2 separate regions of the Homo sapiens genome follow, and region 1 is linked to region 2. Evidence: fine-mapped expression QTL. Tissue or cell type: naive CD8 T cells. Region 2 holds a variant in brackets; the other region holds the start of a gene. All regions are shown on one strand. Distances are from middle to middle.

The links. PIP is the estimated chance that this variant, and not a neighbour inherited with it, causes the effect.
Region 1: ZNF687 starts here. The variant in region 2 is fine-mapped to the expression of ZNF687 in naive CD8 T cells (Schmiedel 2018, PIP 0.95).

Annotation. Positions count from the first base shown.
Region 1 is chr1:151,277,641-151,285,728 of GRCh38, forward strand. ZNF687 (zinc finger protein 687) reads left to right here and starts at 4,659. Exons shown (of 9, transcript NM_020832.3): 1 at 4,659-4,755. It overlaps ZNF687-AS1 (ZNF687 antisense RNA 1), which reads right to left and starts at 4,289. Exons shown (of 2, transcript NR_135595.1): 1 at 3,903-4,289; 2 at 2,384-2,618. RefSeq lists silencers at 3,539-3,879, 4,561-4,840, 5,121-5,280 and enhancers at 3,622-4,506, 4,001-4,200, 4,231-4,460, 4,507-5,392, 5,701-5,770.
Region 2 is chr1:151,413,648-151,421,750 of GRCh38, forward strand. All of the region lies in intron 10 of POGZ (pogo transposable element derived with ZNF domain), which reads right to left. Among named protein-coding and RNA genes, the nearest start is that of PSMB4, 18 kb to the left of the region's middle. The variant C/CCA (reference allele first, on the strand shown) is at 4,041.

The DNA of each region.
Region 1 (8,088 bases), 140 kb before region 2:
TCATGCTTCTACTTCCTCAGCCTCCATGCTTTGGAGTCTTTTTCTTTCTTCCACACCCCACTTTCAACCCTTTTAAAACGTTTAAGTCAGGCCACCATGTCATCTGTCTCCTTTTGATGGCTTTCTAACCCACCGTGAGAAAATGCCAAAGACCTTCCCATAGCTTCCAAAGCATCCCATGACCCAATTCACTCCTCCCACCCCCTCTGGAACACACTCCCCTCCTGAGGACCTTGTACTTGTTCTTTCCTCCTGGAATGTTCTTGTCCCAGATAGCTGCATGGCTCACTCCCTCATCTCTTTCAGACCTTTACTTAACCACCATCTTCTCGAAAAGGCCTTTACTGTCCACCCTACCTAAAATTGCAACCCTCCCACACTTACTGTCATCTTTCCTTGCTTTTGTTTTTGTTTTTTTGAGACAGAGTCTTGCTCTGTCACCCAGGCTGGAGTGTGGTGGTGCGATCTCGGCTCAATGCAACTTCTGCCTCCCGGGTTCAAGCGATTCTCCTGCCTCAGCCTCCCAAGTAGCTGGGACTATAGGCGTGTGCCACCATGACCAGCTAATTTTTTGTATTTTTAGTAGAGACAGGGTTTCACCATGTTAGCCAGAATGGTCTTGATCTCCTGACCTCATGGTCCACCCGCCTCGGCCTCCCAAAGTGCTGGGATTACAGGCATGAGCCACTGCGCCCAGCCGCCTGCTTTGTTTTTTTTTTTAAATTGTTTTTGTTTTTAAATTAATACACTTTATTTTTTACAGCATTTTTAGGTTTACAGAAAAATTGAGCACAAAATGCGAGTTCCCACACATCCTCTCTCTCCAGTTTCCCCTATTATTATTATTATTTTGAGACAAGGTCTTGGTCTTTTGCCCAGGCTGGGGTGTAGTGGTGTGATTACAGCTCACTGCAACCTTGACCTCCAGGGCTCAGGTGATTCTCCCTCCTCAGCCTCCCAAGTAGCTGGGACCACAGGTGTGCACCACCATGCCACGCTACTTAAAAAAAAGTTTTTTTGTAGAGATGGGGTCTCTCCATGTTGCTCAGGTTACTCTATTATTTATTAATATCTCGCATTAGTGTGGTACATTTGTTACAATTGATGAACCAATATGGAAACATTATTATTAAGAGACAGGGTCTCACTTTGTTGCCCAGGCTGGAGTGCGGCAGCAGGATCGTAGCTCACTGCAGCCTCAAACTTCTGGGCTCAAGGGACTCTCCTGCTTCAGCCACTTGAGTAGTTGGGACTACAGGTGTGCGCCACTGTACGCGGCTAATTTTTCAAATTTTTTGTTGATCCTCCCGCTTTGGCCTCCCAAAGTTCAGGGATTACATGTGTGAGCCACCATGCTCACAGGGTTCACTCTTTGTGTTGTACATTCCATGGCTGTTGACACATGTATCCACTATTACAGTATCACATAGAATAGTTTCAGTGTTGTAAGAGTCCCCTGTGCTCCATTTATTTATTCATCTCTCTCCCTCCACCTGAACCCTCAGCAACCAACCACTGATCTTTTTACTCTCTATAGTTTTGCCTTTTCTAGAATGTCACATAGCTGGAATCATACAGCATGCAACCTTTTCAGATTGGCTTCTTTCACTTAGTCATATGCATCGAAGATTCCTCTGTCTTTGCATGGCTTGATAACTCTATTTTATTCCTTGGCAGCTACCATTTCTAATATTTATTGTTTGTCTTCTCTTTAGGAATGTGTGTTTCATGACAGGGCTTCTTGTCTGCTTTGTTCATTGCTACATCTCCAGTACCTGAAATAGTACCTCCTTCCATGGTTGTGGTAAGGACTACGTGAGTTATTAATAATATGTTTATTAATAAAATAAATAAAGTTTTTCTGTGTGTGTGTGTTTTTTTTTTTTTTTTTTTTGAGACAGAGTCTCGCTCTGTCTCCCAGGTTGGAGTGCAGTGGTGCGATCCCGGCTCACTGTAGTTTTGACTTCCTGGACTCAAGCGATCCTTCCATCCCAGCCTCCCCAGTAGCTGGGATCACAGGTGCCTGCCAACACCCCTGGCTAATTTTTTTTTCCAAATATTCTGTAGAGGCAGAGTCCTGCTGTGTTGCACAGGCTAGTCTCGAACTCCAGGGCTCAAGTGAGCTACCCACCTAGACTTCTCAAAGTGCTGGGATTACAGGCGTGAGCCCCCCAAAATATTATGTGTATATGAGTAGTAATTGTTATTCCGCATAGGGAGACCAGAAGAGGAGGTGGAAATGGAATGCCGGTTGGTTACATCGGGTTAGGGACCTTTAATTAGTTGCTCAGAGAAGGAACAGCACCTGAGCAAATGCACAGGATGCAAGGCTCCGGGAGAAAGGGCACACTAATCCCAACTGCCAATTACTTTACAAAGCGTGTTTACATTCTAAACTCATTTAATTCTCACAAAAATAATATTGTCAGGTGGGTATTATAATCCCCGTTTTACTCATGAGAAAACAGGATCTGGGAGGTTGAGCGACTTGCCCATTGCGACCATAGGGCAAGTGGTGGCTCCAGGATTCCCATCCAGAAGTTCTGATTCATACTTCAAAGGAGCTCGGAAACTCTCCGGGTGCGCCGGGGAGTCCTGGTTCCGGTGTCCTGGGACTCCTGGGCAGGGTAACGAAACCACTTTTAAAAACTTTGCCGGGCCCGGTGGGTCACATCTGTAATCCCAGCACTTTGGGAGGCCAAGGCGGATGGATGATTTGAGGTCAGGAGTTCGAGACCAGCCTGGCCAATGCGGTGAAACCCCGTCTCTACTAAAAATACAAAAATGGCCGGCCGCGGTGGCTCATGCCTGTAATCCCAGCACTTTGGGAGGCCGAGGCGGGCGGATCACGAGGTCAGGAGATCAAGACTATCCTGGCTAACACGGTGAAACCCCGTCTCTACTAAAAACACAAAAAATTAGCCGGGCATTGTGGAGAGCGCCTGCAGTCCCAGCTACTCGGGAGGCTGAGGCAGGAGAATGGCGTGAACCCGGGAGGCGGAGCTTGCAGTGAGCCGAGATCGCGCCACTGCACTCCAGCCTGGGCGACACAGCGAGACTCCGTCTCAAAAAAAAAAAAAAAAGAAAAAAACAAAAATTAGCCGGGCGGGTAGTGTCGCACACCTGTAATCCCAGCTGGTCGGAAGGCTGAGGCAGGAGAATTGCTTGAGCCTGGGAGACGGAGGTTGCCGTGAGCCGAGATCCCGCCACTGCACTCCAGTCTGGACGACAGAATGAGGCCCCGTTTCAAAAAATAAAAAATAAAAAACTTCGCCAAGGTAGGGAGTAGTGGCTCACGTCTGTAGGATTGCTTGAGACCAGCCTGGGCAACATGGCAAAACCCTGTCTCTTCAAAAAATAAAAAAGTTAGCAGGGCGATTTGGCGCTCACTTGTAGTCCCAGCTACTCAGGAGGCTGAGGCGGGAGGATCACTGGAGCCTGGGAGGTTGAGGCTGCAGTCAGCCGTGATCGCGCCACTGTGCTCCCGCCTGGGCAGCAGAGTGAGGCTCTGCCTCAAAAAAATTAATTAAAAAATAAAAACACGCCGTTAACGAGCGGCTGCGTGCGCGAGGTGGCACACTGGGCTTGCATACGAATTCTGCCAGTGAGTGCTATTAGAGCATCAAGGAGATTCATTTTCCGAGCGACTCCTCCCTTTCCCCCGCCTCCAGGGGGCGTGGCAACAAAGCGCGGGAAAACTCGACCTTGACCCCACCCCCACTCCATGCTGGGGGCGGGGAAAAGGGGAGCCCTTAAATGGGAAATGGAGCTGGCGGTTCCCCCCCCAGCCCATACTTAGGACGCCTATCAGTTGCTCCTTTAATGCCTCTTTGGAAATGGCCCGGCCACGCCAGCACTCCTACGTCACCTCCCCCGCTTCCGGTCCGCGAGCCCTTCCCAACCTTTAGGTCCCGATTCCTTCCATGCTCCAAATCCCGTGCCCCGTCCACGCCCTCCCGCAGAGGGAGGAGCGACGGGTTACGCTGTCGCCCAGGAGCTGAACCGCGCGAGGACCCCATCCATCAGATTATATGGCGATTTAGACGGTGGGAAGACCGCAAGGAAATGGTCAGCGGATGACGTAATGTTTGGGGTGGCGTCCCATTCTGTAACTTCTGTACGGCATCAGTGACACGGGTTTAGCTTGAAACAGCGCAAAAGGACCTACACTTCTGTGCTCCACTCCGACTCAATGCGGTTCTGCTCTCAGTGCCCACCACACAGAAGCTGGGTTCCTTACATTCGCGAAAGTGAACTGCAGCTTCAAGCTTCGAGCGGCCAGTAGGGAGCGAGGGGCGGAGACGCACCTGGGTGCTCCCCCTTCCAGTAGGCAAGCTGGGAAGCAGGCTGGCTTCTTTCTAAGCGACAGTGGCGGAGGCCAATCGTTTACGAGACTCGTAGATGGGGCAGACGGACCCCGGCGCAGCCAATGGGGAGAGGTATCTTCAGAGGGCCTCGGCCCCTTGCCCAATGAGCATAAGAGGACTGTGCGGGGCTAGTTCCGAGCGGCAGTATTTAGGGCCAACCCAGTGCGGGGCTGGAAGGGGCACAGGGCTGAGCGACGGGGGCAAGGGCCAATGGCGAGTGCGAAAACGGGCAGCCCAGACCTGGAGCGCGGAGGGAGGAGAGGGAGTGGGGAGGCCGAACCGGAGAGAAGCAGGAAGTAGCGGCGGCCGCGGGGAGGGCGGCGGTGGCTGCAGCGGCTGGAGCGGGGTAGAGACCGCCGGGTCTCGGCCCGCACCAGGAGCGGAACAAGTAAGCGTGCCTGGGGTAAATACCCGCCCTTGGCTCCGCCCCCTTGGGGGGGGCGGGTAAATACCCCCGCCCCTCCCCCACTTGGTCAACTACCCCCTTCTCCGCGCCGCCCCCTGGGGCGGCTTCTAGGAAGGCCCAGACACCGCCTCCATCCATTGGGGCGGATGGGCGAAACTCCTGGCCTGTTGTAAGCACAGTCCGTAGCCGGGTAAACCCCCAGGAGGGTCGAGAACCCCAGGTCCTGGCGCCCCCGGCTCGAGAGGCACCCGAAGTGCGGCCCGGAGATTGAAGGCTGCGGGATGTCGCGACCTAAAATGGTGTCCGTTCCCGGGGATGGGGGCGGGGGACCTGGGCCAGGCCGGAGCAGAACCTGCACCCCGACTGGGTGCGGGTCAGCGTCCGGGCCCGGGCAAGACTCAGGCTTGCGCCCCCGGCCCCCTGCGCACCCCCCGATCAGTCTCCAGTCTCTAGCGAGCCTCCGGGAGTGCGCGGCGGGAGGAGGCTCCGCTGCGCCCGGAGGGGAGGGGACGAGGTCCGAGTTGGGACGGACCCCAGCTAGAGAGCTGAGAGTCGCGCAGAGACCGTCCCCTCTCTCCTCCCCTCTTTCCAGCTCCCCACCCTATCCTGTGTAGTCCTGGGTCCCCAGGTGCTGCGCAGCAGCTCCCAAAGGGCCTGGCCTGGCTGAGGCCCGGCCTTCGCTTCGCACGCCGGTGCGAGTGAGAGAAGGGCCGCGCGCCTCAGTTTCCCTTGTAGTTTCTCATGTGTACACCCCGCCCCCTCCTCGAAACCCAGGACTTGCTCCCCGCGCCAGCCCTCGGCAGATGGCAGGGACTTAATTCCGTCTGCTACCCAGCTTGGCCTCAACCTAATCGCCGCCAGCCCCTCGCCCTCCTCTGCGCTGCAGGCCTTGGGCCCGGGCAAAGGTCAGTGGAGCCCCCACTCGACCTGGGCCTGTTCAGCCTCTTCCTGTTCAGCCTCTTTGGCTTTTGGGGAACCACAGAGGGAAAGGGGGCGGGGGAGATAGGAGCCCTAGAGACAGGGCTCAGCAGTCGCAGGAAGGCCTGATCCTCCTTGGCTTGAGCTTGGCGGCTTGCTTGGTCGACTGTCTGCTCTGGGTGGGTGGCCATCGGATGACCTCTAAGTCACTGGGGCACCCAAGAGGGAGGTGGCTGGCGGGGTGTGGGGGCGGGTGAGTTCGCAGGTGTTTTCTCCTAGTCCCCGCTGGTCTTCGTTGTAGCAGTCCACTTTTCTGAGTACCTGAGTGGAAGGTAGCTCAGGCCTCTGGTCAGGAGGGAACCAGGCTTAGGAGCCAGGCCTATAGAGACAAGGGTTTTTGTTTAAACCCAGATTCTGCAGAATTGAATAGGGTGGGGGTGAGGGGAGGACTCCCCCTTTGGTTTTGCCCCCACCCCAACCTTGGTCCCAGCAATCCCAGCTGCCACTTGCTGGGACTGTCTCTAGTTACAGTCTGAAGACTGGAGAGAGGTGGGAGAGCTGGCTGGGAAATGGCCTGCAACCTGGGCAGGGAATGGATAGGGATAGACTCTTTAGTTGCTTCTTCGTAGATACAGAAACACTCATGGGGAGACACTGGTAGGGGACAGACCTGGGTCTCCCACAAACTCTGAGCTGGCCTGCTTGTTGGATTAGTGCCACATAATTCTTGTGGGATTTTTAATTTTATTTTTTGCACTTGGCCAGGTTGAGGCTAGGTGAAACTTCCTGGGCTACTGTTGCCACAGGAAAATGGAAAGGGTGAGGAGTTAAAGTTAGGGGATGGAATGGGGTGAGGAGCTTGGAGCAGAAATGATGGGTGAGGGTTGAGGGAGCCTGGCTTTTTCCCACTGTGGCAGCTGTGCTGGAGAAATGTGTATGTATCTTGGGAGTTTTAGCCTCGGGAAAGCAAGATGGGGAGGGGTGGAGAAGGAAGGGCTGGCTAGGGGAGGGCCAGGCACTCTGGGGAAGGTAGTGAGCGAGCAGCAGGTGTTTGTGACAGGAGAGGTCTAGGCTGGGGCCCTTGTGACCAGGCTGCCATCACCATTTTCCCCTCTGTCTCTTCTCTTTGTCTCTTTCTGTTCCTGTGTCTTATTCTTTCCATCTTGGTCTCTTGGGTAATTTCCTTGAGTCCTTTTCTCCCTGCTGACCAAGCTAGATCTCCAGGTGCCAGTGATGGCCCAGGTGCCCTAGACTTGATCCTGCATGACCCCTGACTCTTGCCTCCGACCCCAGCCCTAGAGTTCCAGTGCTTATTCCTTTCCAGTTCCTCCTTGACCTGACATGTCCTTGCTTGGTTCATCTGGAATAGTAAATCGTATTCTTGGTGGGATTCTTACATTAGCAATTTTGTATTATGCTCAGAATAACCCTATGATACATAGATCACTTGTGCTCTCTGCCTTGTCTTGTCTTTTTTTTTTTTTTTTTTTTTTTTTTTGAGACGGTATCACTCTGTCACCCAGGCTGGAGTGCAGTGGCATGATCATGGCCCATCACAGCCTCGACCTCCCGGGCTCAGGGGATCCTCCCATGTCAGCTGGGAGGCATAGCTGGGACTACAGGCACGTGCCATCATGCCTGGGGAGTTTCACCATGTTGCCCAGGGTGGTCTTGAACTCCTGGGCCCAAGTGATTGGCCTCCCAAAGTGCTGGGATTACAGATGTGAGCCACCACACCCGGCCATTTGTGTCCTCTTTCAAACAGCAAAAGTAAGGCACTGAAGAAACTTGCTTGTACTGCACGCCCCTGATAAAGCTGAACGAGGATCATTTCTTAAGTCTTGGCTTATGGCATTGTCCCTTTGTACATGCAGCCTTTCAGATCTGTGTGGACCCCAGAAGATCCGTGAAGAATATGAATTGATTCCATGCGGACATGAATGAGTCCTTAAACCTAGAACATCATGTACATCATCCTCCTTAATAATAGTATTGATTATTTGGTTCTATGCTGGGGACCGGAGGGGATGAGATGGTTTCCACCAGAATGCTCACTGAGCTCTATTACCCTTCCCTGTTCCCTGTATTTTTTTTTTTTTTCTGAGACAGTCTTGCTCTGTCGCCCAGGTGGGAGTGCAGTGGCACGATCTCAGCTCACTGCAAACTCCACCTCCCAGGTTCAAGCAATTCTTCTGCCTCAGCCTCCCGAGTAGCTGGGACTACAGGTGTGTGCTGCCATGCCCAGCTAATTTTTGTATTTTTAGTAGAGACGGGGTTTCACTATCTTGGCCAGGATGGTCTTGATCTCCTGACCTCGTGATCCGCCCGCCTCTGCCTCCCCAAGTGCTGGGATTACAGGCGTGAGCCACCATGCCCAGCCCCCTATATTTCTTTTTT
Region 2 (8,103 bases):
ATAATTCTTTTTTCTTTTTTTAACTACCGAGAACCCTGGATTTTTGTTTTGAGACAGAGTCTCGTTCTGTCTCGCACGCTAGAGCGCAGTGGCTCAATCATGGCTCACTGCAACCCTGACCTCCCAAGCTCAAGCAATCCTCCCATCTCAGCCTCCCAAAGTACCAGAATTACAGGTATGAGCCACTGTGCCTAGCCAAGTAATTTTTTAAAGTAAAACAAACAAACAAAAGCCAGGGGTTCTTAATCTGGGGTCTATGGAACAGGCCTCTAGGAATCCAGGCTTTCTCTGAAATTATTTGCAAAAGAGTAAAATGTAGATTTTTCTAGGAAGAGGATTCAAACATTTCATATTTATTCTCAAAGAGGTCTGCAACTCCATTTAGAAACACTGTCTACAGGTACATTAGGTGCTATGAGGACATGGATAAATAAGAAATTCTGCATAAAGGAATGAGGAAAAGCTATAACAACATATAAAAGCTGAATTGTCAAAGAATGGGGCTCAGCCAGCCAGAGAGAGGACCAAGAGAAAAGCAGGAGGAAAGGCAAGTAGGTATGAAAGTTAACCACATGTTTGGGAAACAGTTAACTAGCAACATAACGATATTATCTCTTTTCCACTCACCCCCCGATTTGTTTACCTCTCTCATTTTTCTCTTCTAGAACACCTTTAAGCAATATTTTGTCCAGGCCTTTCTTAGTCTATGTTTTCCCTGGGCAATCTCATTCACTCTTTCTCCTATAACCTATTTATCAGCTCTATTTTCACAGCTGTCATGCAACATCAATAATAAAAACACTTATTAAGCAATTTCTAATGTACAAGCATCAGGTTAAGATTTACATGTGTTGGCTGGGCACGGTGGCTCATGCCTGTAATCCCAACACTTTGGGAGGCCAAGGCAGGCGGATCACCTGAGGTTGGGAGTTCAAGACAAGCCTGACCAACATGGAGAAACCCTGTCTCTACTAAAAATACAAAATCAGCCGGGCACAGTAATGCATGTCTGTAGTCCCAGCTACTTGGGAGGCTGAGGCAAGAGAATCGCTTGAAGCTGGGAGGCAGAGGCTGCGGTGAGCCAAGATGGCGCCACTACACTCCAGCCTGGGCAACAAGAGCGAAACTCCCTCAAAAAAAAGAAAAAAAAGATTTACATTGTGTTATCTCAAGAAAACTAGTGAGGTAGGAACTCAAATATAAGGGGATTTAAGAGATCTCTGGTAACCTTTGACACATCAGTTCTACAGGGGAAGGAGCTAATACAGAAAAAGATTCAAGAGGGAAAATGAATTGATTCTCCATGGTGGCTGTCCTAACTGTCCCTCTGAGCACCATCACCCTCCTTAACACCTAACACAATCTCCTACTTTGAGGAAATAGGCATGAACAACTGTAACTTCTGCTGCTTGTTTTCCAAATTATGGAAGGATAGATCTCTTGTACCTTCCTAAGGCTCATCCAACCTCATCATGCCATGTATTCCAAGATTTTGTCAATTTGTTTTCCCTGTCTTCAATCTTCCCCAACCCCGACAGGCTCCGACTCCTAAACATGGTTAAGCTCCTTAAAGCATCCTTCTCTCAATCCTATTTCTTCCTCAAACTTTCTCCTTTCCACTAACACAAGATTTTTTGAAAGATTAGAATAACCTACATCTGTTACCTTTAATGAGATGCTCAGGAAGTGGAGGTAACAATGCCAGGAAGAAAAATGTTATAATATTTGAAGAAATGGGCCGGGTGTGGTGGCTCACGCCTGTAATCCCAGCACTTTGGGAGGCCGAGGCCGGTGGATCACGAGTTCAGGAGATCGAGACCATTCTATCCTGGCTAACACGATGAAACCCCGTCTCTACTAAAAATGCAAAAAAATTAGCCGGGCGTGGTGGTGGGTGCCTGTAGTCCCAGCTACTCGGGAGGCTGAGGCAGAAGAATGGCGTGAACCCAGGAGACAGAGCTTGCAGTGAGCCGAGATCGCACCACTGCACTCCAGCCTGGGCAAAAGAGCGAGACTCCGTCTCAAAAAAAAAAAAAAAAAAAAGAATATTTGAAGAAATGTACCTTAAGATAGCCACTATGGAAAACAGGAATAATAACTAACAGTCTTAACCATTTTTTAGTCCCAAATCTCACACTAACAAAAGCTATGCAACCTCTCCCTTGAAAAATGCACACACACAGGCAAAGTTTATATGTAATTTCAAGGGGCTCACAGGACACCTCACCACCAAGCAGGTTAAGATTTCTGTATTAGACATAAATATTAAAAGACTATGAATCAGGGCCGGGTGCACTGGCTCACGCCTGTAATCTCAGAGCTTTGGGAGGCAGAGGCAGGCGGATCATCTGAAGTCAGGAGTTCAAGACCAGCCTGGCCAACATGGCGAAACCCCGCCTCTAATACAAAAATTAGCCGGGTGTGGTGGTGCACGCCTGTAATCCCAGCTACTCGGGAGGCTGAGGCAGAAGAATTGCTTGAACCTGTGACGCGGAGGTTGCAGTGAGCTGAGACTGTGCCACTGCACACACCAGCCTGGGTGACAAGAGTGAAACTCCATCTCAAAAAAAAAAAAAAAAAAAAAAAAAGAAAAAGAAAGAAAAGAAAAAAAAAAAGACTATGAATCAGACAGAGTGCGGTGGCTCACGCCTGTAATCCCAGCACTCTGGGAGGCCAAAGCGGGTGGCTCACTTGAGGCTAGGAGTTAGAGACCAGCCTGGCCAACATGCCTGTAGTCCCAGCTACTTGGAAGGATGAGGCAGGAGAACTGCCTGAACCCAGGAGGCTTAAGTTGCACTGAGCTGTGATTGCGTCACTGCATTCCAGCCTGTGTGACAGGGTGAGATTCTGTCTCAAAAAAGACTAAGAATCAGCATTAGACAAACTTATGAAAAGAACCCTAGGGCCATACAAGCTCCTTCAAGTCACTGCACTGCTCTTAAACAAGTGTGAATAAAAATGTAATACTACTTTTTGGGTTTTTTTTTTTTTTTTGAGATAGGGCCTTACTCTGTCACCCAGGCTGGAGAGCAGTGGTGTGATCATATCTCACTGCTGGCTCGACTTGCTGGGCTCAAACAATCCTCCCACCTCAGCCTCTTGAGCAGCTGGGGCTACAGGCACAAGCCACCACACCTGGCTAATTAAAAAAAAATACAAAAACAGAGAGAGATAAGGTCTCACTATATTCGCCAGGCTGTTCTCAAACTCCTGGGCTCAAGCAATCCTCACGCCTTGGCCTCCCAAAGTGCTAGGATTAGAGGCATGAGTCACCATGCCTTGGCCTGTAATGTTATTAAGATGATACTGTTATCACAATTAAATATAATGATCCACTGATATTCTGGGGACAACTCAGAAAATTTTTAAATAAAGTAGGTATTGAATGTTATTAAGGATTTCTGATTAATTCTGTTAGATCTTTTTTTTTTTTTTGAGACGGAGTCTTGCTCTGTCGCCAGGGTGGAGTGCAATGGTGCGATCTCAGCTCACTGCAACCTTCGCCTCCCGGGTTCAAGTAATTCTCCTGCCTAAGCCTCCCGAATAGCTGGGATTAGAGGCGCGTGCCACCACACACGGCTAACTTTTTGTATTTTAGTAGAGATGGAGTTTCACCATGTTGTCTGGGATGGTCTCGATATCCTGACCTCGTGATCCACCCGCCTCGGCCTCCCAAAGTGCTGGGATTACATGCATGAGGCTCCGCGCCCGGCCCTCTTTTTTTTTTTTTGAGACAGCGTTTCACTCTTGCTGCCCAAGCTGTAGTGCAATGGTGTGATCTCAGCTTACTGCAACCTCCGCCTCCCGGGTTCAAGCAATTCTCCTGCCTCAGCTTCCCAAGCAGCTGGGATTACAAGTGTGCACCACCATGCCCAACTAATTTTTTGTATTTTTAGTACAGACAGGGTTTCACCACGTTGGCCAGGCTGGTCTTGAACTTCTGACCTTAGGTGATCCGTCCGCCTCAGCCTCCCAAAGTGCTGGGAGTACAGGCGTGAGCCACTGCGCCGGCCTATTAGATCTTAACAAAGGTACTGTGG[C/CCA]CACACACACACACACACACACACACACACACACACACACACAAAAGGCCTTATTTTTTAGAGCTACATATTAAAATATTTAGGAGAAAAATATCATGATGTCTACAATTAACAAACAATTCAGAAAATAAAAGGAAAAAAATCCCCCAAAATATTAGCATGTAAAAATAAGCTACTTTTTGAAAAGGTATCTGCACTCCCATGTTTATTGCTGCACAGTTCACAATAGGCAAAATATAGAATCAACCTAAGTGCCCACCAACAGATGAATGAATAAAGAAGATGTGGTGGCTGGGCACAGTGGCTCATGAGGTCAGGAGTTTGAGACCAGCCTGACCAACATGGTAAAACCCCGTCTCCACTAAAAAATACAAAAAAATTAGCCGGGCGTGGTGGCGTGTGCCTGTAATCCCAGCTACTCAGGAGGCTAAGGCAGGAGAATCACTTTAACCCAGGAGGTGGAGGTTGTGGTGAGCCAAGATTGCACTACCGCACCTCAGCCTGAGCGACATAGCAAGACTCCTTCTCAAAAAAAAAAAAGATGTGGTATATATACCCAGTGGAATATTATAGCCACAAAAAAGAATGAAATTCTGTCATGCAGCACATGGTTAGAACTGGAAGTCCCTAAGTGAAGTAAGCCAAGCACAAAAAGACAAATATCACATGTTCCCACTCATATGTGGGAGCTAAAAAAAAAAGTAGATCTCATGGAGAGAGAGTAGAATGGTGGTTACCAGAGGCTGGGAAGAGTAGGGGAGTAGAGAGTTGAAGAGAAGCTGATCAACAGGTACAAATATATGGTTTGAAAGAAGAAATAAGACCTAGTAGATCAGTAGGGTGACTATAGTTTACAATAACCTGTTGTAAATTTTAAAATAGCTAGAAGAGAATAATTTGAATGTTTCTAGCATAAACACATAGAGTGATGAATATTCCAAGTACACTGATTTAATATTTACAGATTATATAAATGTATATTAGATTATCACATGCATCCCTAAACCATGTACACCTATTATGCATCAATTCTTTTTTTTGAAAAAGCTACTTTTGGGCTGGGCACGGTGGCTCATGCCTGTAATCCTAGCACTTTGGGAAGCTAAGGTGGGTGGATCACGAGGTCAGGAGTTTGAGACCAGCCTGGCTAACATGCTGAAACCCCGTCTCTACTAAAAATACAAAAAATTAGCCGGGCATGGTGGTGGGCGCCTGTAATCCCAGCTACTTGGGAAGCTGAGGCAGGAGAATCGCTTGAAACCAGAAGGTGGAGGTTGTAGTGAGCTGAGATTGTGCCACCGTACTCCAGCATGGGTGAAAGAATGAAGCTCTGTCTCAAAAAAAAAAAAAAAAAAAAAAGAAAAAAAGAAAAAAAGTTACTTTCGACCGGGCATGCTGGCTCATGCCTATAATCCCAGCACTTTGGGAGGCCGATGCAGGTATATCATTTAAGGCCAGGAGTTTGAGACCAGCCTGAACGACACGGCGAAACCCCATCTCTACTAAAAATAAACAAACAAAAAAATTAACTGGGCATGGTGGCACATGCATGTAATCCCAGGAACTTGGGAGACTGAGGCACAATAATTGCTTGAACCTAGGAGGTAGAGGTTGCAGAGAGCCAAGACTGCGCCACTGCACTCCAGCCTAGGTGACAGAGCGATTGTCTCCCAAAAAAAAAGCTGAGCACGGTGGCTCACACCAGTAATCACAGCACTTTGAGGCTGAGGTGGGTGGATTGCTCGAGCTCAATAATTTGAGACCAGCCTGGGCAGCATGGCAAAACCCTATCTCTACAAAAAACACCCCCCAAAACAAAAAACCCCCCAAAATTAGCTGGGCATAGTGGCATGTGTCTGTAGTACCAGCTATTCAGGAGGCTGAGTTGGGAGGATCATCTTAGCCTGGGAAGTGGAGATTGCAGTAAGCCAAGATTGTGCCACTGCACTCCAGCTTGGCTAACAGAGTGAGACCCTGTCTCAAAAAAAAAAAAAAAAAAAAAAAAAAACTACTTTCATGCCAGATCTGTCAAGGGTGCAAAAAAGGAAATTACGAAAGACTGCAAGAATAAAATTGATATATGCTAAGGAAAGGTGATTTTGGTAAGCATAAAATCTTGTCATAAGAGACTCAAAAATTAAGTCAGGGAAACCAAGAGAAAAAAGATCAATGAGGGTCTACATTGTTTCTTTTCCATAAGGAAAAACTTATCTTCCCTCTGTGTAATTTTATTATTTGTGGAACTTCGGAATAACAAAACCCACCCCCCATATTACGCGTAAAAATGAGTTAGGTGCCCAGACTGGGCAACACAGCAAGACCCTGTCTCTACCCCCAAGAAAAGGAATAAATTAGCTGGGTGTGGTGGCATATGCCTACAGTCCCAGCTACTCAGGAGGCTGAGGTGGGAGGACTGCTTGAGCCCAGGGGTTCGAGGCTGCAGTGAGCTAAGATTGCGTCACTGCACCCCAGCCTGGGTGGCAGAGCAAGACCCTGTTGTCTCAAAAAACTGGTGTTTTCACTAAGAGGTATGGATGAGTTACTCTGGCTTCACATTACTGACAGTGAAGAATCGTGAGTCCTATTCTAGACCAAGCTGGCTACCCTGGCACTACACTGCAGTGTTACCATTGATTCTTTGTTTTTTGAGACAGAGTCTTGCTCTGTTATCCAAGCTGGAGTGCAGTGGCGTGATCATGGTTCACTCTAGCCTTGACCTACTGGGCTCAAGCAATCCTCCCACCTCTACCTCCTGAGTAGCTACGACTATAGGCGTGCGCCACCACACCCAATTTTTGTATTTTTTTTGTAGAGACGGGGTTTCTCCATGCTGCCCAGGCTGGTCTTGAACTCCTAAGCTCAATCTGCCTGCCTCGGCCTCTCAAAGTGCTGAGATTACAGGTGTGAACCACTGCACCTGGCCCGGTTGATTCTAATATACATTCTACTCCCAAATGATTAGTCCAAAGTTTCACTGTCTAATATGGTGGCACCAGCAACATGTATCTAGTGAACACTTAAAATGTGGTAAGCTCAAACCCAATTTAGATTTGTATTTCAAAAGATCTGTTTTTTAATGGAGGAAAAAAGAATGACGAATATCTCATTAATTTTAAATTTTGAGTTCATGTTGAAATATTTTTAATATACTGAATAAAATATGCTGTTAAAATTAATTTTGCCTGTTTTTTTAAACTTTACAGTAGACGCCCTTTGCCAATGGGAAATATACGTTCCAAGACCCCCAGTGCATACATGAAACCTCAGATAGTATTGAACCCTATACATACCGTGTTTTTTCATATATATATATATATATACCTATGATAAAGTTTAATTTATAAATTAGGCAAAGAGATTAACAATTAAAAATATATAATATATAAAAGGATAATTATAACAATATACTGTAATAAAAGTTATGTGAATGTGGTGTCTCTCTCAATAATCTTATTGTACTGCACTCACCTAGTTTTGGACTGTGATTGAGACTAAAATTGAGGATAAGGGAGCGCTACTGTATTTAAAGTGAAAAAAATTAAAATTACTCATGAAGCTTGCATATTTCTACTGCCTAGTGTTACTGTAAGCCATTAATGTCAATCCCACTTCCCTTGCCAATAAATGGTCAGAGATATAAAAGGAAAGCAATTCTCACTCATAAGAAAACAGATTCAAGAAAGAAAAATTGAGGATAAGGGAGCGCTACTGTATTTAAAGTGAAAAAAATTAAAATTACTCATGAAGCTTGCGTATTTCTACTGCCTAGTGTTACTGTAAGCCATTAATGTCAATCCCACTTCCCTTGCCAATAAATGGTCAAAGAGATATAAAAGGAAAGCAATTCTCACTCATAAGAAAACAGATTCAAGAAAGAAAGATGGGAAGATAAGATCTCTTCTTTGTCTAACAATTTTTTATCTGGACATAGTGCCTGACACTTATACAGCCACCCTGCTATGAGCCAGAGACAAGAGAATTGTTGAAAACCAGCAGGGCAGTCAAATTCTAGGCTGAAGCATCCATTTCTGTATCTCTCAGTTAAATGATATAACAGATATTC